Linked DNA regions of Homo sapiens. The protein of the gene in region 1 purifies or fractionates together with the protein of each later gene. This does not show direct contact. Each region holds a gene or a part of one and is shown in the gene's direction. Other genes may lie near its edges.

Evidence for each region.
Region 2: the proteins of KCNE3 (region 1) and BMPR2 purify together in Homo sapiens (co-immunoprecipitation; 2 studies listed by BioGRID and IntAct, with this or other methods). This does not show direct contact.
Region 3: the proteins of KCNE3 (region 1) and STAM2 purify together in Homo sapiens (co-immunoprecipitation; 2 studies listed by BioGRID and IntAct, with this or other methods). This does not show direct contact.
Region 4: the proteins of KCNE3 (region 1) and NHSL3 purify together in Homo sapiens (co-immunoprecipitation; 2 studies listed by BioGRID and IntAct, with this or other methods). This does not show direct contact.
Region 5: the proteins of KCNE3 (region 1) and MLF1 purify together in Homo sapiens (co-immunoprecipitation; 2 studies listed by BioGRID and IntAct, with this or other methods). This does not show direct contact.
Region 6: the proteins of KCNE3 (region 1) and PRICKLE1 purify together in Homo sapiens (co-immunoprecipitation; 2 studies listed by BioGRID and IntAct, with this or other methods). This does not show direct contact.
Region 7: the proteins of KCNE3 (region 1) and MYOF purify together in Homo sapiens (co-immunoprecipitation; 2 studies listed by BioGRID and IntAct, with this or other methods). This does not show direct contact.

Annotation. Positions count from the first base shown.
Region 1 is NC_000011.10:74,464,750-74,468,925, reverse strand, and holds the start of KCNE3 (potassium voltage-gated channel subfamily E member 3), read left to right. Parts: upstream 1-1,376; 5' UTR 1,377-1,436; coding exon of another isoform or gene 1,437-1,528; intron 1,529-1,604; exon of another isoform or gene 1,605-4,176. UniProt on the Homo sapiens protein: Ancillary protein that functions as a regulatory subunit of the voltage-gated potassium (Kv) channel complex composed of pore-forming and potassium-conducting alpha subunits and of regulatory beta subunits.
Region 2 is NC_000002.12:202,564,788-202,568,249, forward strand, and holds the end of BMPR2 (bone morphogenetic protein receptor type-2 precursor), read left to right. Parts: 3' UTR 1-2,962; downstream 2,963-3,462. UniProt on the Homo sapiens protein: On ligand binding, forms a receptor complex consisting of two type II and two type I transmembrane serine/threonine kinases.
Region 3 is NC_000002.12:152,165,764-152,169,263, reverse strand, and holds part of STAM2 (signal transducing adapter molecule 2), read left to right. Parts: intron 1-3,500.
Region 4 is NC_000001.11:32,765,830-32,769,329, forward strand, and holds part of NHSL3 (NHS-like protein 3), read left to right. Parts: intron 1-1,957; coding exon 1,958-2,128; intron 2,129-2,232; coding exon 2,233-2,288; intron 2,289-2,822; coding exon 2,823-2,946; intron 2,947-3,500. UniProt on the Homo sapiens protein: Able to directly activate the TNF-NFkappaB signaling pathway.
Region 5 is NC_000003.12:158,574,194-158,577,693, forward strand, and holds part of MLF1 (myeloid leukemia factor 1), read left to right. Parts: intron 1-3,500. UniProt on the Homo sapiens protein: Involved in lineage commitment of primary hemopoietic progenitors by restricting erythroid formation and enhancing myeloid formation.
Region 6 is NC_000012.12:42,471,247-42,474,746, reverse strand, and holds part of PRICKLE1 (prickle-like protein 1), read left to right. Parts: intron 1-2,182; 5' UTR 2,183-2,230; coding exon 2,231-2,362; intron 2,363-3,500. UniProt on the Homo sapiens protein: Involved in the planar cell polarity pathway that controls convergent extension during gastrulation and neural tube closure.
Region 7 is NC_000010.11:93,346,335-93,349,834, reverse strand, and holds part of MYOF (myoferlin), read left to right. Parts: coding exon 1-27; intron 28-2,052; coding exon 2,053-2,218; intron 2,219-3,500. UniProt on the Homo sapiens protein: Calcium/phospholipid-binding protein that plays a role in the plasmalemma repair mechanism of endothelial cells that permits rapid resealing of membranes disrupted by mechanical stress. Involved in endocytic recycling.

The DNA of each region.
Region 1 (4,176 bases):
GTTCGAGATCAGCCTGGGCAACATGGAGTAACCCAATTTCTATAAAATACAAAAATTAGCCAGACATAGTGGTGTGTCCCAGTTACTCAGGAGGTTAAGGGAGGAGGATCACCTGAGCCCAGGAGTTCAAGGCTGCTGTGAGCCATAATCACTCCACTGCACTCCAGCCTGGGTGACACAGTGAGATCCTGTCTAAAGGAAGGAAGGAAGGAAGGAAGGAAGGAAGGAAGGAAGAAAGAAAGGAAGGAAGGAAGGAAACTGAGATTGCATGCTTAGGTGATTAGGATGACTTTTCTGAGAGGTGATCTCCAGACTGAGAAAAAGGAATAGTAGGGTCAAAACAAGGTGGGTACAATATACCCACCTTGTATATTGTATACAATATACAATATACCCACCTTGTAGTAGGTCTTTTTAAAACGATAGCACTTCTTAGATATATTCTGGGATTCTGTAATTGAGAGTATGTGCTTCAGATATCCTGGAGCAGACCTTTGCAAGGGAGTGAAAGAGCTGGCCTGAGGCTGTTATTAATTATTCTGAGGCAGTGAGCTGGTAAAAGGGCACCCCACAGGGTCCCCCGGAGAAATTCTCTGCAACTGTCCCTTCCTCTGCCACTAGCCTCCTGGCTCTTATTCCTCAGCTGCCCCGGCTGCCCCAGTTCTCTGAAGCCTGCAATGTCACCAGCAAGGAAACAACAGTTTGAGTGAGGGCATGGTGGTGGGAAAATAAACTGTTCTGGGACAGAGATGAGTAAGGTGCGGCTGAACACAAGTTGGTCAGGCACTGTCACGAACTTTTGAGGCTTGGTGGAGGAAACATTTGCTGGTGCTACTCAGAGACAGAGGGGTGTGTAGTGGATTTTGGGTCTGGGCTCTGCTACCTGGGCAAATCCCTTCTCCAACTGGGCCTCTGCGTCCTGTGTGGAAAAGAGTTTGTGTAAGAATCATATTATTTTGCTGTTGACCCTTTGGTTTTAATACTTTGGACTCAAAGGTCTCATCTGACCTCAACCATAAGCCTGTGAAGAATGCATGGAGGAACTGTACCAACTTTACAGCCAGGCCAAGGCCCAGTGAGGGGCAGCGACTCGCCCACCACCACACAGCCACACTGGAGCAAAACCGACTCCTGGAGATCGGCCTCATGCTGGGCTTGCTGAGGCCCAGCGGAGCGAGAGGCTTTCGGTCTCTGGTCCAGGAAGCAGGCGCTGCAGGGGACGGAAGGGTCGGAGCCCACAGCCGGGGGAGGCCAAGGAGCTGGGCGGAGGCACTCCAGGCCAGCCCGGGGAGAAGTGGGTGTGCTGGGGCCCGGGCGGGGCAGGGGGAGGGGACGCCCGGGGGAGGGAAAAGGGAGCCGAGCGCGGGTGGGAGCCCAGAGCCAGAGAGCGCGCTGGGCGGTGCTGGGCACCCGCGGAGTGGAACGGGGCTGGTGGAATGCACAGGGTCGCAGCGCTTGGGCCACCCTCGGTCAGAGGGCGCCGTGTCCAGCGAGCAAACGGGCGCCCCGGAGCCTTGCTGAGAGGCAGGTAAGGCACCCACCCAGCTGGGAAGGCTGAGCTGCGGCCTGGGGTGGAAATGAGGGGTCTTCCCGCCTCCCTTCCAAGGGCCACGGCGCGCTCTCCGTGAGACTGTGGAACCGAGGGGGAGTGGGGGAGGGGTGGGCGCTGCAAATACCAAGCTAGTCCTCCCGGATCCTCCCCGATCCTCCCGAGCGCAGTGATCGTGGAGCAGCATGTGGGAGTAGGGAGCTGGGCTCTGCGCGCCCCGTCTGGAAACCGTGGGGACTTGCGCCGTTATTCCCAGCCCTCAAGACGGCCACAAGAAAAGTTCCTCCACACCCACAGACGTGCAAGCGAACACTTGCAGCTGGCAGCCAGTGCACACGCAGAAACGACATTTCAGGACCCAGCACAGTCTCATTTGGCTGGAGCCACCGGCTCTGCGGAGCTGACTTGCCCATTCCCTCTACACCTCACTGTGTCCTTCACCCTGTCTGACCTAGTCCCGGGAAACCTGGTGACTCCCAAAAGCATCTTCTGCTGCCAGTAACATAGGTCGAGGCTGGGAGTCGGGAGACTTGAGTTCTAGTTTACAGGCTGTGTAAACCCGGGCAGTCATCCCTCAGCTCTGCGCCTTGTGCTCGCTTTTCCTGGGCCACCATTTGTAAAACGGGCCTCCTGCTCCTGTTGCCTGCATACCCCATGGGACAGAAGGGGAAAGGGGGATTGGACCTCAGAGTCTCTTATCTCGAAAATAAATGAGTTTAGTTCTTGCGTGAAAGCCCACCAGAGTATCCCTCCTAAAATCCTCTCCACTAATTTGCATATAGGGAAACTGATGCCCCAGGGGAGATGATTTACCTAAGGTTACAACAGAGACCAAACAGAATTAGAACCCAAGTTTCCTCAGTCCTAGCCCAGGGCTCTCTCCACTTCACCTACAAAGGCATGTTGTAAACGTGTGAGCTCCTCCTTATTTCCTTGCATCCGTCCACTTTGTCTGTTCCTGATGGAGGAAGACCCATGCTGGGGGCCTAGAAGCTGCTTTCAGATTTTCTTGACTCCTTGAGATGATAACCATCACCTTCTCCATCCCTCACTCAGTCTATACGTCTCAAAGCACATCCATAAACTTAATGTGCGAGTGCTCAAAATACCTTCTAAGAGGGAAGCAAGACAAGAAACTCCATCTTACTGATGAGGAAAATGAGGCCTAGAGGGATATAGACTTAGAGTGATAAAGTTACTTAACCAAAACGCACGGCTAGACGTGTTGGCCTAGTAGGGGCAGGAACCCAGGTCTCCTGATTCCCCCTCTGATGTGTTCTCCACCAGCTACAGGACTACAGAATGGTACCCCTCAATGATAAGGGACTGCGGGAATGATCATAGAGGGTAGGAAACAGGAAGGCTTCTGGAGAAGGTGAGGTTCCTGGGAATCAAGAAGAATAATAAGAACCTCCTGGCTGCTTCTGAGGCTAGGAGACCTGGAGTGGGAAAGGAGACACAGAGATGGTTGTTCTTGGTAATATGGGGGGAAAGGAAAGATGTGGAGACAGAAAAGGAAAACAGTGTGACCAGCCTGCCTGATAATTATCTTGTATGTTTGCAATTTCTAAAACATTCCCATCTCTTGTCTCCTCTAGTTCTCATGTGTGGTAGGCAGGGCAGGGATCATTATCCCCATCTTATAGATGAGGTTCAGAGGAAGTAAATGCAGTGCTCAAGGACACAGAGCCAAGCATACAGCCAAGATTAGAATCATGAAAGGAACACTTGAACGGCAAGATCACAGGCTGAGGGACTGGGGAGTTGGACTGTGTGTGTGTGTGCAGTGGGTGGGTGTATGTGGCCACACCCTGGGTAGGTACACAGGGAAGAGGGTTGCAAAGCCATTGCTGGTGTTTTGAGGCCAAGAATGTTTGCCCTTTGGATTGAATGGGGTCCAGGTGCAGGGAGCATCTGGGCTTCCAAAGAAGGCTTAGAATTCTTCCTCCTCTGACTCACCCCACCTGACTGAGATGGCTTCTTTTCTTTGAGCCATCCCTTCCCCAGACCAAATGAAATCTGTTTTGCCCTGCCCTGGAGGTTGCTTTTTAAATATTGTAAACTGTTTTCATGAATGTATGTGCGTGTGCCAGAGCGGGGGAATGCTCTTAGAGAAGAGGCATTGATTCATTTATTCTTGAATGCCTGCTAGGTATCAGGGCTGGGAAATAAAGAAATGTATGAGGCACAGGACCCTGCCCTCTTACCTTAAAGCGCACAGTTACACACATACACATACACACACACACATACACACACACACACACACACACAGAGTTTCAGTACAGTATAGTGCTCTAATAAGCCTTCGTGCAAAGCACTTTTGGGAAAAAACAAGAGGGAGAGACTAACTGGCTAGGGAGTGAGGAAGGAGGAGTCCCAGGAGAAGGTCTGCAGAGATGAATTGGAGTTGGGTCTTGAAGGATGAGTAGGAGTTTGCCAGGCAGGTAAAAAGAGGAAGGGCATTCTTGTTTAAGAAAACAGCATGAGCAAAGGCAAGAGATGTGCAAGTGCAAGGAATATTTGGAGAGTGGCCTGTACTTCAGTGTCATGGGTGCAGGCCACTGAAAAGAGCTGTGGGGAGATGAGGCCAGTGTCAGAGTCACATTTCAAGGAGCTTCAGTGGT
Region 2 (3,462 bases), on another chromosome or scaffold:
CTGTAATCCCAGCACTTTGGGAGGCCGAGACGGTGGATCACGAGGTCAGGGGACTGAGATCATCCTGGCTAACACGATGAAACCTCATCTCTACTAAAAATACAAATAATTAGCCAGGCATGGTGGCACGCGCCTGTAGTCCCAGCTACTCGGGAGGCAGAGACAGGAGAATCGTTTGCACCCGGGAGGCGGAGGTTGTTGCAGTGAGCCGAGATCGCGCCAATGCACTCCAGCCTGGGCTACAGAGTGAGACTCCATCTCAAAAAAAAACAAAAAAAATCACCTCATAGTTTATGTCTGACTTACTCCAAACCTCAGTTATCTGATTTGTAGTCTGTGTCAGGAAAGTTTTCTTCATATCTATTCTGTCTCCCTCCTCTTTGATTTTAAATTTTTTTCTTTTACCCAGTAGGACAAAAAAGAGCAGTTGGTCATCATCCCCAATATTCTTAGTCTTCAGTATGCTTCAGGCCTCTCAATGAACACTTAAGTCTCAATTCTTCAGACAAAATTGCTTAAGCTCTTCTCCTCAGTCCTATTTTAATGACTTTATATTTAAGAATATAGAATTATATTTTCTTTTATATTCAAATTCATTACTCCAGTTAAGTAATAGTTTGATAGTTTGATAGAATCGAGAGTTAAGATGTTTCTATTTGAAAGTGGATTCAACCATCAGACCACCAGCAAATCGGCACTTAATTTTTGTGTTATCTAACATTTTCTATTGTGGAATTTTATGATTTTATATTCTCATTAGTTATAACTAAAAAGCCATGCACACAGAATTGTATATCATTTTGCCATTAAAATTTTTTAACATATTGCAGCAAGCTTAGTTTTATGATTGAGCCACAACCTTTTACATATTTTTTGTATGAAATATTAAACACTAAATGCAAGATTAACTTTCAAAAGCAAACCCTACATTAATCAGGTATTATCTATGGACATTTTTGTAGACCACTTTTGAAATACTTATTATTTTGCAACATAGACTGGACTATACAACTTTCATTTAACTTTTAGGTGACTGATTTAAGTTGAGTGTGCATATAGAGAAAAACCTAGAAATTTATCTCATGGCAGATACATTTGAAAGTACTTCAGAAGAATTTATGCTGTATATTAAAACTAGGCTCAAAATAAATCTATCGTATCTTTAAAAGTCCAATTCTGTTATTACTGTGATGTTTGTAGTGTTACTATTAAACATTGTGAACATACACATTTTTAAAACAACTTGAAACCCATTTTAAAATCTGGGTAAGAGAGAAGGAATCTTCAGAACAAAATCACATCATTAGGGTGTCCAGTTTATGATTGAATTTTTAAGCAAATTACTGTATTTGAAACTACAACTTGATTTGGTTTTCAGTTTTAAAAGGCAACATGTGGGTTTTATCCATTTTATTTATACCTTTAGATTTCAGAAACATCTTCATGTTTTAGATGCATTCTACAGACATCATGTTACTTAAAAACTCAGGGCCCCTTTCATCCCTTTGTACACTGAAAAAGTTCAATTGTTAGCAAGTAAGCAATTAGATCCAGTTGAATATTTAAAGTGTTTGTTGCACAGTTCATTTAATGTTTCATCTTATTTGACTTTTTCACATAGATATAATATCAGATTTCATTAATTATAAAAAGTTGCCCAGTTCTGTAATTACTGAACAGAGGGAATGACTCAACTAATTGGCTACATGTTGCAACAAATTTAGGCCTTTAGAGTTGAAGCACTGACTTAAAACGACTTACATTTCTGTTCTTTGGTCAAATGACCATACATGATATGGGACAAATTGTTTCATTTTGTTTGTTTTTTAATAAGGGAACTTGGTAAAGTAGTTCCTGTCAGATAGGATTTTCTCAAGAGACAATTTAACGTTATAAAGCCTTCTAAAAGTGAACTAAATATTTTATAACTTTAGTAATAGCTTGGATGGTTTTGAGAAAATAACCTGTATTTATCACATTGTCAAACAGAATTTTTCTTTGAATCAGACAAGTTCAAGCTCTAAATTGATGTGCTATATACTTAAAATCCTAGGAAGTTATCTGTAACCAGTCTCTTGTCTCAGGCTCTTCACCTTGTTACCAATCCTCGTAAGTATGTAAAGGAAACATATTTTTAAAGAAGCTTAACAGTAAGAAAAAATTACTAAAAGATGCAATTCAAAGATAGGTCCCAGTTTAACACTGAATTGCTTGACTTCTGTGGCTTTTCTTTTTCTGGCCACATTTATTTATTTAAGCAATTTTTGTATGCCTTGTTATTTCATTTCCATAGAGATTATATTGTATCAGTGTTTATGTAAGCTGGAATCATCCTCAGTTTTTTGCTGATAATTTTTCAAATAAAGATACATGGATAATTGTAAAATACACTAACTCTTAGGGTGTTGTAGTAGCTGAAACATGGAGATGCGTAGCTGTCATGCTTTTTCTGAATGGACAGGAGAAACATAAGCTACGGAGTATTCACTTCTGAGGATGCTTTTCCGGAAAAAGAAAGGCTAGAAAATACTCGCACTTCCTCAGAACCCTCTTTCTTGTTAACGGGTATCTTTTGTTGGTGTGTTTTGCTCTTACATTACAGATAGACTATCATATATGACTTTATGAATAATTTCAGTTATTTTGCTTTTGTATAAGCTGTCTGAAGCCTTGCTATGCTGTATAAGTTGTGTTTGATGGATCAGTGTGAGTATAAAATAAAGCAAATCACTTTTCTTTTGTATTATCTATGGATGCCACTATGAAAGCTGACATTAAGCCACTAAAGAGTTTTCTATGAATAAGTGTAAGTAAATGCTTTGATATATATAAACCTAAATAAAAAGATTGTATTGATACAGAGACATTGGAGAAGGAGATTTTAAGGCAGTTCTTTAGGTTTAAAAAGGCTTGCTGTAAAATGGTGCGTTATTCCGTTTATTAAAGATCATATTAATGACAATAGTAATTGTGTTTTTTTATTTTAAGAGGTCACCAGAAATTGTTAGTATGATAATTAGGGAGTTTGCACTAGAATAGTAAATGTTCTATCTAATATGACTTTCATAACTCAGTATGATACATCAAAAAATAAAAAATAAAAAAAAATAAATAGGCCGGGCGTGGTGGCTCACGCCTGTAATCCCAGCACTTTGGGAGGCCGAGGTGGGTGGATCACGAGGTCAGGAGATCGAGACCATCCTGGCTAGCACGGTGAAACCCCGTCTCTACTAAAAATACAAAAAATTAGCCGGGCGCGGTGGCGGGCGCCTGTAGTCCCAGCTACTCGGGAGGCTGAGGCAGGAGAATGGCGTGAACCCGGGAGGCGGAGCTTGCAGTGAGCCGAGATCGCGCCACTGCACTCCAGCCTGGGCGACAGAGCGAGACTACGTCTCAAAAAAAAAAAAAACTAAATTTAGTATAATAGTTGCTATTTTCTGACCATGTATTATATGCCAGGCA
Region 3 (3,500 bases), on another chromosome or scaffold:
CAACACCAAAAAATAAAACAAAATTGATTTTTAGAGTTCCAGATACATTTCTTACTAATCTTTAGTTGGGTATGTATGTTACAAATCTGTATTCTAGTTCTGTTTGTTTCTGCTGTCTTTTATTGTAAAGAAAATGTGGGTTTTCACTTAGTGATATTTGTCATTCTCCCTTAATTTTATTTTTCTTAAGAAAGGCTTCAGGGCTGAGTGTGGTGGCTCACACCTGTAGTAAAGAAAAGAAACCCTTCTCCACCCTGAGGTTATACAGATATTTTCATATTTTCTTCTGCAAGTTTTACTAAACTTTTGATTTTCACATTTAGGTCTTTGATCCACCAGGAATTAATTTTTGTATAAGGTCTGCGGAGGAATTGAATTGGATAACCAGTTGACAATAGACAATAATCAATTGTCTAATCACTGTGGATTGAATTGTCTGTTTTTTCCCCACTGTTTTATAATTGTCTTAGCTATTTTGGGCATTTCAAATGGATTATATGACAGATTGGTTAAAATCATTATACAAGGGAATTTCTTGTAGGTTTTTAGGATGTAAGAGAAAAGACATTATAATTTTATTTTTGTTTCACATCAGCTGATATTGATGGTTTAAAATATATTTTTATTCCTTAATAACATTTAATGATAAGCTTATGTATAATTTGTAAGTAAGTCAAGAAGAGAATGATTTTCTGCCAGTGAATATACAACATAATACTATAGCAGTGTAGTTAGGTGGATGTGTCTCTAGCATGGCTTTTGTTTAAATAAAGGACCTCAGAGGTGTTGCGTGTAATAGGCCTTGTGGCTGGGCGCGGTGGCTCATGCCTATAATCCCAGCACTTTGGGAGGTCGAGGTGGGCGGATTACAAGGTCAGGAGTTCGAGACCAGCCTGACCAACATGGTGACACCCCATCTTTACTAAAAATACAAAAATTAGCCGGACATGTGGTGCATGCCTGTAGTCCCAGCTACTCGGGAGGCTGAGGCAGGAGAATCACTTGAACCCGGGAGGCAGAGGTTGCAGTGAGCCAAGATCGCGCCACTGCACTCCAGCCCGGACGACAGAGCGAGACTCCATCTCAAAAGAAAAAAAAAATAGGCCTTGTATATAAGTATGTAGGGTAGGATATCAAACTCTGGTTACTTGACAAGTGATGGTTCTAACCACCTATTACCCAGGTATCAAAATGAAACTTAAGGATATATCATTTCTTTATCTCTTGTTATTTTTTTCCTCCTTGGTTGTCTATTGTCCTTTAATCTGACCACTTTTCTTCTCCCCCTTCCTTGATTTTTCATTTTGTCTTAAGTTAAAAAGCTTTTATTTTATTTTATTTTTTCTTCTTTTTTGAGACACAGCCTCACTCAGTCGCCCAGGCTGAAGTGCAGTGGTACAATCTCAGCTCACTGCAGCCTCTGTCTCCTGGGTTCAAGCAATTCTCCTACCTCAGCCTCCTGAGTAGCTGGGATTACAGGCACCCACCACCATGCCTGGCTAATTTTTAATTATTTATTTATTTATTTTTTTCTAGAAATGAGGTTTCACCATGTTGTCCAGGCTGGTCTTGGACTCCTGACCTCAAGTGATTCACCTGCCTCGGCCTCCCAAAGTGCTGGGATTATAGGAGTGAGCCACCATGCCTGGCCTAAGTTACAAAGTCTTTAAAAGTGTTTTTGCTTACAGTCTTTTTCCTGTTATAAAAATATCAGCTAATTGGCAATATTTGTCCAACACCATGGGTGAGAAGGATATTAGTTCCTGAGGCATTTTGGTATTGTTGAAACATTCTTTTCCCTCATCCTTTGTTTTTTAGGATTAAGTTTCACATTGACTTATTGGCATCTGCTATCTTTTTTGGTGTAGTAAGTGTTGCTCCCAGCTTTTAGACTTCCTTTAGCGTTATTTTCTTAATGGGTCTGTGGCTGCTATGCTTAAAGGACAAGCACCTCTCTGTCCCTATAGCACCTTGTGGAACATTTACAGTTCTTCACCATGGAGACCTGTTATGGCGATCTCTGTTGCATTCAGGGAGGCCTTTCTTTAGTTTCCTCCAGTTAAGAAATGTTGAAAATGAAGTGTCTTGTGAAGTAGTTCCAGTTCTTACTGACTTTTAATGCAAGCTCAGAACTGTGTTTAATCTCATATTTAAAAAAAGCATGAAGGGAAATGATGAAGGATTTAAAAAATTTTATTATGTACAGTCTCCCTCATATTTAGTGTAATTTTTAAATGATAGCAGTTGGATGAAAAATCTGTTATTCAGTGAAATTGTTATTGTATCTGAAAACTCGCAAACTATTTTCTTGGTCGGTAAACGTACCCTTAGTAAGCACTTGCTTATTTTCATTTGCAATATGAGAATTGTAGTGACTCAGAATTTTACTTCTCATTTGTACTAAAAGTTTTTTTTATTCTTATCTGGAGCAGCAGCTTTTACTTTCATTTGTCATGGGATGAATTATCTTAACCTTCTCTTCTAAAAAAAGATCTGCTTAAAGAAATCTAGCATGTGCAGTGTTTTGGTTTGTCCCCAGCAGTACTAAGTCCTTGAGGTGGAGGGTTGAAGGGGAAGAACTTTTTTTTTTTCAAACATTAATACCTTATTAGGTTCTCTTAAGTTACCTGATAATGAATAAACCTTTATATTTAATGGAGAGATTGAACCTAAGAAGGTCATTGTGGCAGATATCTGGGAATGGCCATTGTCCCCTGAAAATTATTGACATTCTGAAGTGGCCACCTGCTTATAGGTGTTAAGAATAGGCTGTGTATATATGTATGTAGGGTAGGATATCAAACTCTGGTTACTTGACAACTATCAGTTCTAACCATCTATCACCCAGATATCAAAATAAAACTTAAGGATATATCATTTCTTTATCTCTTGTTATTTTTTTCCTCCTTGGTTGTTTTTTGTCTCTGAATCTGACCACTCCTCTTCTTCCCCTGCCTTGATTTTTCATTTTGTCATATTACTCCAGTTTTATGTCAGAAATTTGTCACTACATGATGATGTAGTCTTAAAATTTTTAGCTATTCTAGTGGGTATGTCATTGTGGGCTTTGTCGTTGTTGTTGTTGTTTTTGAGACAGAGCCTTGCTCTGCCCCCCAGCCTGGAATGCAGTGGCGTGATCTGGGCTCACTGCACCCTCCACCTCCCAGGTTCAATCTGGGACTACAGATGTGCACCACCATGCCTGGCTAGTTTTTGTATTTTCAGTAGAGACAGAGTTTCGCTGTGTTGGCCAGGCTGGTCTGCAACTCCTGGCCTTATGTAATCCGCCCGCCTTGACCTCCCGCAGTGCTGGAGTTACAGGCATAAGCCACTGTGCCCGGCCTTCATTGTAGTTTTAATGTGCATTTACTTGATAACTCTTGATTTTGGGCACGTTTAAATATATTTATTTGCTAAATGAATGTTCTCTTTTTCAAAGTACTACTTGTTTAAATATTTTGTCCATTTTTCTTTTCACTTAATTTTCACAACTCTTTTAA
Region 4 (3,500 bases), on another chromosome or scaffold:
GAGTGGGTGTGGCTTGGGGGGAGGGGAGGGATGCTCGATGCCTCCCTTTCCCAGACCCTTATGTAGAATGAGGAATCAAGGCTGGGCAAAAGTAATGGGGTGGGGCTGGGGGCTGATAATGAGGCCAGAATCTCCCATCCGGCTGTGCTTTTGTCCAGCCGCTTTGTTGCTGCCTTTGTCTGGGCCCTGCTTGTGGGTTGGGAGGATGGATCCAGGTGTCTCTGACCTTGAAGCCTGCAGCCCTCCCGTGAGACTTGCCTCCCTGCCGGGGTACCCACACTTTACTGGGTACAGCCTCCCAGTCAAGATGTACTAGCCTTTCCTAGTGTGCCGGGGAGGATGGGACGTGGGCGGCCCAGAAGAGAGGAGAGTAGTACCACTGGAAGTTGGGAAGCCTGCTCAGTGAAATCCTGTTTAGAGGCCTGGGAATGGAGAAGTTTTGGAGGGAGGGGCCTGTTCCTCCTTCCTTCTCCTAGGAATTGGGCTTTCAGACCTGGATTAAGACATAGGGACAAGAGTTTATTGGACTTTTGAGGGTTGGGGGCCCCTACTCTGAGTGTGATCCGGGAGTCCCCTCTGGGAACCTGGAGTTGAGTCCAGGGTCAGTCTGACTCCTACTGCTGGGTGACCTTAGGCAAGGCCTTGCCCCTTTGAACCGTTTCCCCACTTGTAAAATCTGGGGATCTCGGGCACTGGTCTGGTTGGATCTGTTGGGGGCCTCCTAGCTCTGACCTGTGGGATTCCTGCAGACTCCCTAGGGCAGGAGCTCTGGCTGTTGACGAATGGGCTGAGGGAGGAGGAAAGGCAGGTTTCTGAACTGAAGACCCTGCTCCTGGAGCATGGCCCTTTAAAGGGCTTGTTTTGTTCCCGTCCCTTTATAAGGTGTTACCAAGGTCACATGACCCTTCCAGCGCTTTTGCTTATGTTGTGGGTTTCATTTAAAGGGGGGGCTGGGGCTGCAAAGTGCTGACACAGCCCCCCATCCCCAGGATTAGATGGCCAGCCCCTCCACAGGCGGGGCTTGTAACAGGATCCTTTGTAATGGATCCCTGGCTCCTCTGCAACAGGGGCCAGGGCCAGGGCCAGGGCCTCCAGGAGAGGGGGATACCTGGGACTATTTCCCCAAGAGAGACTGGAGCTCCCTTGGGCGGGTGGAGGGGCCTGGGTCTTTCTTCTCCCCTCCCCTGCCCATCCTTCCACTAAGGGGCAGCCACATGGGTGAGTAGGGGACCCAGGAGGCTATCTCCTTGGTCTGCATCCCCCCTAGGATTTTCTGGGAATATGGTTGTAACTCATGCCAGCTGTCTCTCCTTCCTGATTTCCCGTGATATCTTCTTCCTGGACCTGGTTCAAGTGGTGGCATGAAAAGAGTGGTTTGTTTTCCTGTGAAGTGGGGTTTTGGGTATGGAGGCGAGAGCAATGTATTTACTATGGGCTATGTGTATACTCGGGATGTTTTTTGTGGGGCTCTGAGTGACGTGTGAGTACATAGTCGTGTGTATACTTGGTTACTGTTTGTGTATATACAGAGCAGGGACTGTGGGTGTTGTGTGTTTACGTGCGGGCTGGGTGTGCTTGGTGTGTGTACCTATGTGTGTTTATACTCGGATGCCCTTTGTTTATATACATGAATGACATCTGTGAGTGCTGTGTACGTACACAGTAGACCTGTGTACCTGTGTGCCCTGTGTGTGGGGCCTTATATGGGGCCCTTTGTGTGGTGTGGGTACTCAGATTTATGTACACTTGGGTGTAGTTTGTGTATATGGGGGCTGTGTGTGTTGAGTGTTTACTCCAGAACTGTGGGTTATGTGTCCAGACTGGGGAAGGGGGCATTGCTTGTATATGCAATGGCCGTGTGCAGTCTGGGGACCATGACTGCCCTTGCCGTGAGACCTGTGCCCCTGCAGGGCCCAGATGCCTTTACCTCATTTCCCTTCCTCCTCCCTCCTACTAGGCTCTGCCAAGGCTGAGAATGACAAACATCTAAGTGTAGGGCCTGGCCAGGGGCCAGGGTCTGCAGTGGATGAGCACCAGGACAACGTCTTCTTTCCCAGTGGGCGACCCCCCCACCTGGAAGAGCTGCACACTCAGGCCCAGGAGGGGCTCCGCTCCCTACAACACCAAGGTAAGCTTCCTCTCCACTCCCCTCCCCTCTCCTCCCTCCAGTGCTGCACTGTCAGCTGTCAAGGTCAGGGGCCTAACCCAACAGACCCTTCTGGTGTCTTCCAGAGAAACAGAAACTGAACAAGGGTGGCTGGGACCATGGAGACACCCAGAGTATCCAGGTGAGCCCTGCCTCCAGCTCAGTCCTGACTCTTCTCTACCTGCTTGACCCCTGGCAAGGATGTCTTGGAACATTTCTGGGTCTCAGTTTCTTTATCACAAAGGGCTACACTAAATGAACCCTGAGGGCTAGTTCAGGGTTGCTCAGTGCTAGGTGATGCTGGAGGGGATCTGTGACTCAAAAGTTCGAGTGGGAGGCTGGGCGAGGTGGCTTACACCTGTAACCCCAGCACTTTGGGACGCTGAGGTGGGCGGATCACTTGAGGTCAGGATTTTGAGACCAGCCTGGCCAAAGTGGTGAAACCCTGTCTCTACTAGAAATACAAAAATTAGCCAGGCATGGTGGGAGGGTACCTATAATCCCAGCTGCTTGAGAGGCTGAGGCAGGATAATCGCTTGAACTTGGGAGGCGGAGGTTGTGGTGAGCCAAGATTTCGCTACTGCACTCCAGCCTGAGCTGGATTTGTCTCAAAAAAAAGTTCCAATGGGGAGCCTTGAGGAGACAGCCCCACCCAGATCTCCTTCTACCCTGATAGTCCTCCCGGACGGGGCCGGATGAAGACAACATCTCCTTCTGCAGTCAGACCACATCCTACGTGGCTGAGAGCTCCACAGCAGAGGACGCGCTCTCCATCCGCTCGGAGATGATCCAGCGCAAAGGTGGATTCATGGGCAGGGGAGAGGGACAGTGGGCTCCATTGGGTCCCAGCATCTGTAGCTTCTTTTCCTCCTTATCCAGTGTTTCACCAGGCTCTCTGATTCAATGAATTCGGGAAACACAGTACCCTGTGTCCTCTTGCACATTCGTGATACACACTAACTATAAAGCAGTTAAGAGTTAGAAAATCTTGGCGGCCGGGTGCGGTGGCTCACGCCTGTAATCCCAGCACTTTGGGAGGTCGAGGTGGGCGGGTCACGAGGTCAGGAGATCGAGACCATCCTGGCTAACACGGTGAATGAAACCCCGTCTCTACTAAAAATACAAAAAATTAGCCTTGCCTGATGGCGGGTGCCTGTAGTCCCAGCTACTTGGGAGGCTGAGGCAGGAGAATGGCGTGAACCCAGGAGGTGGAGCTTGCAGTGAGCCGAGATTGCACCACTGCACTCCAGCCTGGTCGACAGTGTGAGACTCCATCTCAAAAAAAAAATAAAAAAAGAGTTAGAAAATCTTAACTGTTGGAAGCCTGGTGTAACTAACTAGTGCCAGCTGTGTG
Region 5 (3,500 bases), on another chromosome or scaffold:
AAATGGTTAATATAGAAAAATAAAATGATTAAAATTTTTTTCTGAAGATTATTTATTAAGGCATACATGAACTCAGGCAAATTTATTATGCCATTTTAGTTAACGTGTTTAGGAGCTGTTGGGATATGGACAGTGTTATTTTAACAGGTTTAAATTTTTGTATTATTGTGATTCTCTCTTTTGAAAGCCAGAGGCGAGGCTTGGTGGCTCACGCTTGTAATTCCAGCACTTTGGGAGGCCGAGGTGGGTGGATCACCAGAGGTCAGGAGTTGGAGACCAGCCTGACCAACATGGTGAAACCCCATCTGTACTAAAAAAAAAAAAAAAAAAAAAATACAAAATTAGCCAGGCATGGTGACACACACCTATACTCCCAACTACTTGGGAGGCTGAGACAGGAGAATCACTTGAACCCAGGAGGTGGAGGTTGCAGTGAGCCGAGATTGCGCCATTGCACTCCAACCTGGGCAACAAGAGTGAAACACTGTCTCAAAAAAAAAAAAAAAAAAGAATATTTAGCCAGAGAATATTATTTTGTAAAATCCATAATTTTATTATTTTGTATTACATAAGCTCTGGCTTTCAAGAGAATCACAGTACTACAAATCCATAGATTATTGAGGTGTTGAAGTCATTCATATGTAAATATGACATCATACAATTGGTAACAGCTAAGAAGATTATGATAGACAATTTTCGAGTTGTATTATATCCTTGATTATACCAAAAGTTGTTTTATATCCTTCATTGTTAAGGATTCCATCCTTAACTGTGAATGTGTAATGAGTATAATATGTTCTTTAAAATGTCTAGCAGAAGTGTAATTTAAACTCTTGAGTGATTCTGAGCAGAGGCAATGAATTCAAGAGTCAGGGTCAGAAATAGTAACAGACTACAAATAGTAAGCATACAGAAGAACTCTTCCTCTGTGCTTAGGGTGAAAAGGACCATCAGTTACTCTTTCAGTTATCACTATCTATAGCCTTTTTCAAATGCAAGGAGCCATATCATAAAAATTGAAGGTAAAATTGTTGCAGTTAACTTTTTTTAAGCCTAATCTCCTTTATTCATCACAAAGCTTTTGCATAGACCTTTTAAATATACAAAATAGTGGCCAGAACTCTGCTTACAGACTACCATCTTTCATTACCACCATATTACAGTTAATTTTATAAAATTGATTCACACTTAACAATTTCTTTTCTCCACAATGAATTATATTTAACACACTTTTGGGGATAAGGGAGAAAAAGAATATGAGTTTATGTTTATTTCGGGTAATCTATTTGACCCACCCGTTTTACCTCAACCCCCAAACAAAATGAGTATCCATTTCTTAAGTTAAACATAAAGAATTCATAAAGGTGACAAACTCCTTAATGAATCATCCACTGACCTTAGGAACATAGAGATGTGAAACACATAGCTCATGCCCACTCTCTTTTATATAAATATTATCCCTGTTGCTAACATTGTGGTGGGTGGGTCATAGAGTCAGTAAATGTTGTTTAATGGTGAGTTGGTGTCCTTTATTCTCTTTCTTGTAGTCAATCTGGTATTTAGTTGATTGCTGAAAGTAATTATCATTTGCATTCAACAAATAACATTGTTGATACTGGTATTTTCTAATTAGAACATTACGATTTTCTAAATAGTCCATTAGAGTTGCTTATATTGTTCACAATCAAGGTTATTCAATATAAGCAAACGCTACTGATTTACTAATTATTCAAAAATGGACAAAAATGTATACTTCTTTGATATAAAAATAGAATTACTAGATACTACGATGCTGATAAGGTGCTGTGGTTAAATTGTTAATTGCTTAAAATATTTAAGTAAAAAGTAATTAAAATCTGTAGTTTTGAATTCAAATATATTCAGTTTCAATGTTTACCTTATTATAACAGTGCATCTTAAATGTTTCTTCAGAAAAGTAAAAGGAAATGTTAAAAGTTATATTTTAAAATTTGGTGTTTTATTACATACTTGGGATTTTTAAACTTTGGTATCTCATTATGTCTCAGGGCTGAAGTTATTTCATTGAAAATTTACATTACAGTATATTCAGATATACCTTCTTAAACAATATCTGTTACTTGATTAAAAACACAAAGGTTAAAAGCTAGCACTTCCTGGCATGCAGTTCTCTCAAGAATACTATCTTTCTCTCACATCTGTATTTGCTAACAATATGCATATTGTTAAGTACATATGTATAGACAAGAGGATTTTGAGGTTAAATGGTTTTGGCATCCTGTACCCTAAAAAACATCGATTATGTAGTATGAAAGTTTATAAATATTTAGTACGACCCAGAATTTTCTATTTGATACGAAACAGGAACTGTGAATCTTCTGAGCTACAAAAATGTAATTCTGATCGAGCAAGTCTACAAAGAATAATAACTATGTTACCACTTACCAGCTATTGGAGATAGAAAGCTCAGAAGCAGGCTGGCAAACCTGTCAACCTTAATTTTTTTTTTTTTTTTTTTGAGACGGAGTCTGGCACTGTTGCCCAGGCTGGAGTGCAGTGGTGTGATCTCGCCTCACTGCAACCTCTGCCTCCCAGGTTCAAGTGATTCTCCTGCCTCAGCCTCCTGAGTAGCTGGGATTACAGGCGCACACCACCACACCCGGCTGATTTTTTGTATTTTTAGTAGATACCGGGTTTCACTATGTTGGCCAAACTGGTCTCGAACTCCTGATCTCGTGATATGCTGGCCTCAGCCTCCTAAAGTGCTGGGATACAGGCATGAGCCACCGCACCCAGCCAACCTTAATTTTTAATCATAAATTATTGTTGTCTCTTCTTTAAGCCTCTCAGCTCTCCATATGAGCATCATATATCTGATGACCAGTATTTGGTTAAAGTACTGCATATATTCACAGGATGTTACTTCTTCTATCTCCTTATATGTATAATCTCTATTTTAAAAATTTTTACAAATTTGTATTTATTTTATACTTGGAAGTAGTTGGATTTATTAAAGGACATTGCTTTGTCCTATCCACTGATGGAGTTCAAAGTGAATGTATTCTATGTACAAGATGTGGGTTAACTTTTTTATTGATGGAAAACATTCTCATTGAAGGAAATAAAACCACCTTGTTAAGCTTTTGGAAACAGTATTCAAGGTTACTACTTAAATACTTGTTTAGACGTACAGTCTGAGGTAGAGTCTCTGCCAAATTGTCATAGCTTGGCTCTAGTTAATATTCTGCCACATATACCTCTCATTCTAAACAGTTGATAAAAGTAGCTTGAGAATACTCAGCTAAAATTTAAGTTACTTATTTTCAAGGTCCCACTTTATTCTAAGACCCTGAATACCTACTGTGAAATTACCTAGTATAATTGTTCTTAGGAATATTTTAATATATAAATTTCTTATAAATGAACTTTGCAAATTATAAGATCATATTTGAAAGAATGAGACACTGTAAGCCTTGTGCTGAAAGGATTTCTAAGGTATACTATTCATTTGGGGCATTCTT
Region 6 (3,500 bases), on another chromosome or scaffold:
TTCTCCTGGTAGGAGTTTTAGAGTTACTAATTAAATTCTTAACCTCTGGTTCTCTTCCTTTGACATGTGGGAGTGGTTTTTTCAAAATATCCAAGACATTTTCTGACTCATTAACACATCCTTTTTTATTGAGGAGTCAGAGGAATACGCCTATGTTTAGAAAGCCTTTCCTTAGTCAAGACATGAATGAGTCGCACCTGTGTGAAATGATGCCTTGTTTAAAAGGTCATAACCTCCCAATGGTAGTGTAGGAAATGAGGTCATCTTCACTTCTTGTTCAGGGTGAATGAAAGTTAAATTTATTAGTTGGAATAATATATGTGTGGCATTGCTCCTACTGCTAATAAAGATTGTAGCTATGAGGTGCTTGCCCTTCATTTATGAACTGTTACAATGTTAATTTTCTCAATGTCCTATCATTTATAAAAGAAAAACCATAAATTTTAATCAAGTTTTATTTTATTTTATTTTTTTCGAGACGGAGTCTCGCTCTGTCGCCCAGGCTGGAGTCCAGGGGTGCAATCTCAGCTCACTGCAACCTCCGCCTCCCGGTTTCAAGCGATTCTCCTGCCTCAGCCTCCCGAGTAGCTGGGATTACAGGCACCCACCACCACGCCTGGCTAATTTTTGTGTTTTTAGTAGAGACGGGGTTTCACCATGTTGGCCAGGCTGAGCTCAAACTCCTGACCTTGTGATCCATCTGCCTCAGCCTCCCAAAGTGCTGGGATTACAGGTGTGAGCTACCACGCCCGGCCAATAATCAAAGGTTTTAATAGGTAGTATTTTCCAACACTCAGTATTTAGAGTTGAATTGAGATAGTCACTGAAAAATGACTTAGTCTCAGGCTGAAAGTGTATGGCTTTTCACTGCCTTTTACACTTGTTTAAGCAAATGAGAACTTTTTTTTTTTTTTTGACATCCTTCCTGAGATGGAAGAATGTTTATTGAGGCAGAAGAATTTTTGGAAGTCTGACATGTCAGTGTGTATGTGTGACTAGACTCTGGCTTTTAGCCATATGACCTTGGACAAGTCTCTTGACTTTCCTGAATCTTGTTTTCTCTAAAATCATTGGGTCGGGATAATTATCTATAATTTTCTTTCTTTACATCATTTTTTTGTGGGTGAAAGGCCCAGGTATAAAAAAGCTCCATCTCTCCATCTGGTTCTGAAAGTTCTGCTATTATTATTTTTTTCTTTGTGCCCTGGGATGAGGGATGATTTTAATAATCAGAAGATACAAAGAACATAAATGGTGATAGCAAAGTTCCTGGGTTCTAGGGCAGGGAATGTTGTCTTGACACTTTTATAGCCCTTCATCCAAGGAGGCTTTTTATTCAGAGGAGGATTTACATCTTACTCTGCCCATAGCAGGCTGATGACATTTCACACATACTAGGCACTGACTGCATAACTTTTCAGCGAATGCCTGCTTATGATGCAATTAAACATTAACAGTCACCAAGCTGGATTTTATTTTCACATAGTACTGTATTCAGTGACTGTTTGTTGAAGGAACTCACTGATGAATGTCTGACTGACTTTAGCCCTTAGTAAAGGCTTGAGGATTTAATGTGCAGTATAAGGATTTAATTGTGCTATTTCTATTTTGTGTGTAAACTCAGTTTAGTGTCTTACAAAACATAATTAGAAATCTGAAACCTAAGCAGTTTGGCTGAGTGGACCCACTCTCAGGAGGCAGCACTGCCTCAGTTGGAAAAATTGCTTAGGAAATACAGGGGTGCCGAGTGGGGTCTTGAGCCATTTTTCCTGGGGCATAGTAGTGGGCAAGGCAGGTAGCCTGACCCCGACACTTCTTTCTACAACTTACAGTATGTCACAAGGATTTGTGGGCAAGTTAGAAAGTCAACACATCAACTTTCTTGAGAACTTTTCTAAGGAATCGACTGTAGAGAGGCACCTTTTAAAGGCTCCTGGAAATAAACTAGCTTTGGTGGCATGTTCTGAAATTCTGAGCTGGCAAAGAGACTACTACCAAATTATATAGCTCTAAATTTTAAATTTCAGGGGGCCTGGGGCCTGGGGGTGGTGACAGTAGTAATTTGGTTACTTTCTCTGGGCCCAGCTGTCTGTTAACAGCATTCAATAAAAGCTCTGGGTCGGGGGTAAGAGAAATGCATTCAGGTTTTAGATGTCTTTGTTTTTTCTTATATTGTTCACAGCAGCCATTGTTTGATGTCCTGTGACTGAGAAACCAGGCTTTAAACTTTATGCCTTTGGAGATGGAGCCCAAGATGAGCAAACTGGCCTTTGGCTGTCAGAGAAGTTCCACATCAGATGATGACTCTGGCTGTGCATTGGAGGAGTACGCCTGGGTCCCCCCGGGCCTGAGACCAGAGCAGGTAGGAACTTCATCATCCTATATTTACTCTTTGTTTTTCAGTGTGAGTTCAGACTTTAGAACATTATTTTGTAAATGGATAGAACATCACTGAGATGCTGGAATACCACCCTCCTCAGTCCTTATTCTTCTTTGTATGGCTTTGAAGTTTTACTTTTGAAGGTCATATTTAGTTTCTCAATGGAAGTTTCCAATCTCGTCGTACCCATGGTTCCAGAAGCCTCATAAGGATCCCATTTTTGCTCTAATGAATGAAATCCAGAGTACTACATATGCATTGGTTATGTGTATTTCGGATGAATCCCTCTTGAGAGTGAGAGGAATTTCCCTTTTAAAAAACTTCTGTGACAACAAAAAGGCAATAAAAGAAAAGAGAAAAGTTTCCATGCCAGTTCTCAGCAATGCTTTTGCTTTGGAAGCGAGATAGTGAGCTATCAGAAACCCTCTGAAGTGTTACTGCTTAGACGTTTGACCTTTGATAACTTTGCATATAAAAGAGCCTGTCACTTACACCACAGGGATTGGAAAAAAAATTAAAGAGTTAATTTTATGCTTTGTTTGTATTGTTATTTTAGGGAAGATGAGAACATTCCATATGCCTATTTAATTTTCCCAATATCTTTACAATGATTAACTTGTTGAAAATCACTGGCGATATTATTAAAAGAGCAGAGGCATCATTTGAAAATAAAGTTGACAGTGGGGTATGTGGTTGCTTTGCTTCTGATGTTAGGGTTCTGTTTCCTGTAGGGTGGGACGTTTTATGAGAATAGGGTATCCTTATTTATCCATGGCATAGCACAGTACCTGGCACGCATGTAGCTGATATTCAGTAAGTGTTTATAACTGTAAAAAGCTTCTAGAGCTGATAGAATGGGGAGAGGGTGGAGTGCTGGTGAAGCAGTTAGAAAAGCAATATTTTGACAAACTACTTAGAGAGAATCCCTTCTTACAACTTAGAGTGGGTAGGTTTTGTGTGGTACTAAGGTATTGAAGTAGACAGGCCCTAAATTCCTGTCTCCTGTCTTTTTTTTCTTTTATTCCTTCTCAGCTCTGCAGTATCCTTTGCAGTACTCATTAAGGGATGTTCCTTTAAAGACATCAGAAAAACAAACAAGCAGAAATTAAGTTTTCCTTTC
Region 7 (3,500 bases), on another chromosome or scaffold:
CCAAGTTCTGTTCTCTTCATGAAAGTGGTACAGTATCGATTCTCTGTGATCACCCATGCGCGTTGAAATATGAAAGTATGTGCCTCACACACACACACACAAACACAGAGTTTATTTCCAAAACCTGACAAATAGAAAAACCCTGCCTTATATTCAGCTTGTCAGTGACTTTTTCCCCTTAAATTCTCCCACTGTAGTGATGATTTCTTAAAGCTTCAAAATAACTCCAGTGGCACAGAAATATCTGTGAGCAATACTTACTTATTTCTCCAGTAAACTTTCCATCTATTCAGCTATCTATTACAAGCTGTTGGTCAACCCCATGAAGGCAGAATATTAACCCCCAGTCATGCATGGACCAGATATACCCCCTACAACTGTGCATGGACCAGAACCTTCTGGATAAGGACTGGCTGTCTGGGGAAGGGGCAGCTGTGGGGGAAGGTATATGGGGTGATAGGGCCATGACCTTGGCAGCCCATAACTGTGCCCCACCTCCAGGTGCCCCTGGGATGGCACCTTCTTTGGTCCATTGAGGCTACCCTCTGGTTGTTAAAGATGTGAGAGCATCAGATCCAGTTCACAGCTCTCCATCACAGACCCCATAATACCTGGGGTGAGAAGAGGCCACCCAGTCTTTCCATTTTTAAAGCAGTTAATTTCTTAACTTTAAAAAAAAAATCTTTCTTTTTTACTCTATTATATAAATAGGTGACATAAAGACAGTTTCTTACCTTGAAGTGTTGGAAGACCTAGAACCTTCCTTTCCCCACCCCAGTCATTTTCCTGACCTTGATGTCTCCAATACAGTGCTCTTGAACTCTAGGGTCACGTGCTTTAACCTCTTATTTTACATTACAGAGGAGGAAACTGAGGCCTAAAGAGGGGAAATGATTTATCCAGTGTCATAGTGTTAGGCCACACCTTCTATACCACAGTGACTATGTCCTAACTAGTGACAGCTGCAGTGTAGGGCTTGGTGCATTCTTACTTGGTACACCTCGTCTTTAATCCTGCGGGGTGAACATTTTCACCTCTCTTATGCCCACCTTGGGGAAAAGCAAGAGGTAACAGATTTACACAAGGGGATGTCGCTAGCAAGTGAGTGGCCAGAGTTTGCACATAGGTCCTTACAACCCCAATGCCCATGCTCCCCTCCCTATCATGCGACAGACGGCGAGCCACCGGGATGCTGCCAGCCAGGGTCCCAAAGTGGTTGTCCCTGGGCCACTCCACCTATCCTTGTCTACTCCCCACACCTCCCTCACCTTCCAAGTTCTAGTCTGGAATCTAGCCTTGGTCAGCAGAGATGAGAAAAACCACTCAGGTGACCCCAGTTTCTATTCCTGTGTCAAGCCAGAGATAGAAATTCACCTGAACCACATACCAAATGGGCCCCTAGGTCAGCTCATGATTCCCCAATCAGGCATTGTCACCAAAGCCACCAAATTCCATGAGAGGGAGCCAGGGGGAGTTGAGGAGAAAGTAGCAATCCATTTTTACACTGAATTTCCAGGGCAAAGAGACTCTCAGCCACAGTTATTTCCCTTAGAAGTTCAGTTTTGTCTTGACCATTTCTAAAGTCTGCTCAGAACTTGGCTAGTAGATGACCAAAGCCCTGGGCTAGTTAGCCTTGTGCATGTCCCCTCCCAGGAAGCAGAGCACAGGGAAGAGTATAGGGCAGTGACTGAGAGTAAAGAGCATGGGTCAGTGATTCCACACTTACAGGACACAGCATGGGTCAGGTACTATTCTAAGTACTCTTCACATAGAGTAATTCAACAATGTTACTATTACTCATGAAATAATGGGGGCATGGAAGGGTTAGCCAGGTAGTTCATGGTGGCAGTGCCAGGATTTGACCCAGGCAGTCTGGCTGACAGCTCACGCTCTTAAGCACGGAGCTCCTTGCCTGGCACATGAGTAACTGAACTATTGCGAGTCCTCTGGGCTGTGTGGCAGAGAGAATCTGGACTGGTCCATCTGGGGAATTTTTCTCAAAGCTGCCCTCGTCTGGTCTTGAGAAATGAAACCTACCTTTGTGACCCCCAGTTCTTGCCCAAGGAGGAATTGTACATGCCCCCACTGGTGATCAAGGTCATCGACCACAGGCAGTTTGGGCGGAAGCCTGTCGTCGGCCAGTGCACCATCGAGCGCCTGGACCGCTTTCGCTGTGACCCTTATGCAGGGAAAGAGGACATCGTCCCACAGCTCAAAGGTAACATGCAAGGCTGTGCATAAGTCTGGGGGCTTTTCTTTTTTTTTTTTTTTTTTTTGAGACGGAGTCTCGCTCTGTCGCCCAGGCCGGACTGCGGACTGCAGTGGCGCAATCTCGGCTCACTGCAAGCTCCGCTTCCCGGGTTCACGCCATTCTCCTGCCTCAGCCTCCCGAGTAGCTGGGACTACAGGCGCCCGCCACCGCGCCCGGCTAATTTTTTGTATTTTTAGTAGAGACGGGGTTTCACCTTGTTAGCCAGGATGGTCTCGATCTCCTGACCTCATGATCCACCCGCCTCGGCCTCCCAAAGTGCTGGGATTACAGGCGTGAGCCACCGCGCCCGGCCGTCTGGGGACTTTTCATGCATGGCTCTGATTTACTCTTTACAAACCTACTCAAGGTAAGTCCTGGATTCATTGTCTACATTTTACGGATGAGCAAACTGCGTGAGTTGCGGTGGGTTATGGCACTTTCCTAAGGTTCTATCATTCGTAAGTGGCAGAGCTGGGCTGGAATCTCGGCCTTGTTTTAGGGGTGGGTGGCATGCTCGAGGGATTCCTCTCTGAAGCGTCCTGCTCCTGGGTGAATGTAAGACTTCTTTTGAGGAAGTGTTAAGTGCTCATGAATGTTCCCTATTCACCTTTCAACAAGCAGCTTGCAAAGCAGGGAGAGCTGTTCCCACATCAGTGATGGGGATGAAGTCATTTCCTCTGCCTTTCACTGAATGGTTAGGAAGCACTCACTGACTGCCACGTGCTGTTCTAGATATCTGGGGACAGTGGGGACCAAGAAAGGCATGTTCCCCTCTCACAAAGCAAAAGTCCAGCAGGGAAGGCAAACGAGGAAGTGTGCAGTTGCAGTCCAGTGTGATAAATATCTTGATGGGGAAAACAGGAAGCTCCCTGACCCCATGAACACTGAGAGAGGAGGAGATTTTATTTCAGATTGCTTTCCACCTGTTGGCCTACCTCATTATCACATATAATTAATATGTAAATGATAGAGCAGGGCATAATACTTACTTTAGATTTCCATAATAAATAATAGCTAGTGATACAGCATTTTGCAATTACCCATTCAATAGTTACTTGCTTTTAGCTTACCATGTGCTAGGGACTGTGTTAGGGGCTGGGGGCTACATTGCATCAGTGCAAGAGATCCCAGGGCCCCTGGCCTCATAAATTAGACACCGTGGGAGGGCTGGAACAGCCTCATTCGGCTGATCCTTGGTGGCTTCAAGACTGAAGCAGATGTCTTCTATTTAAGCAGCTGTGTCACTAAC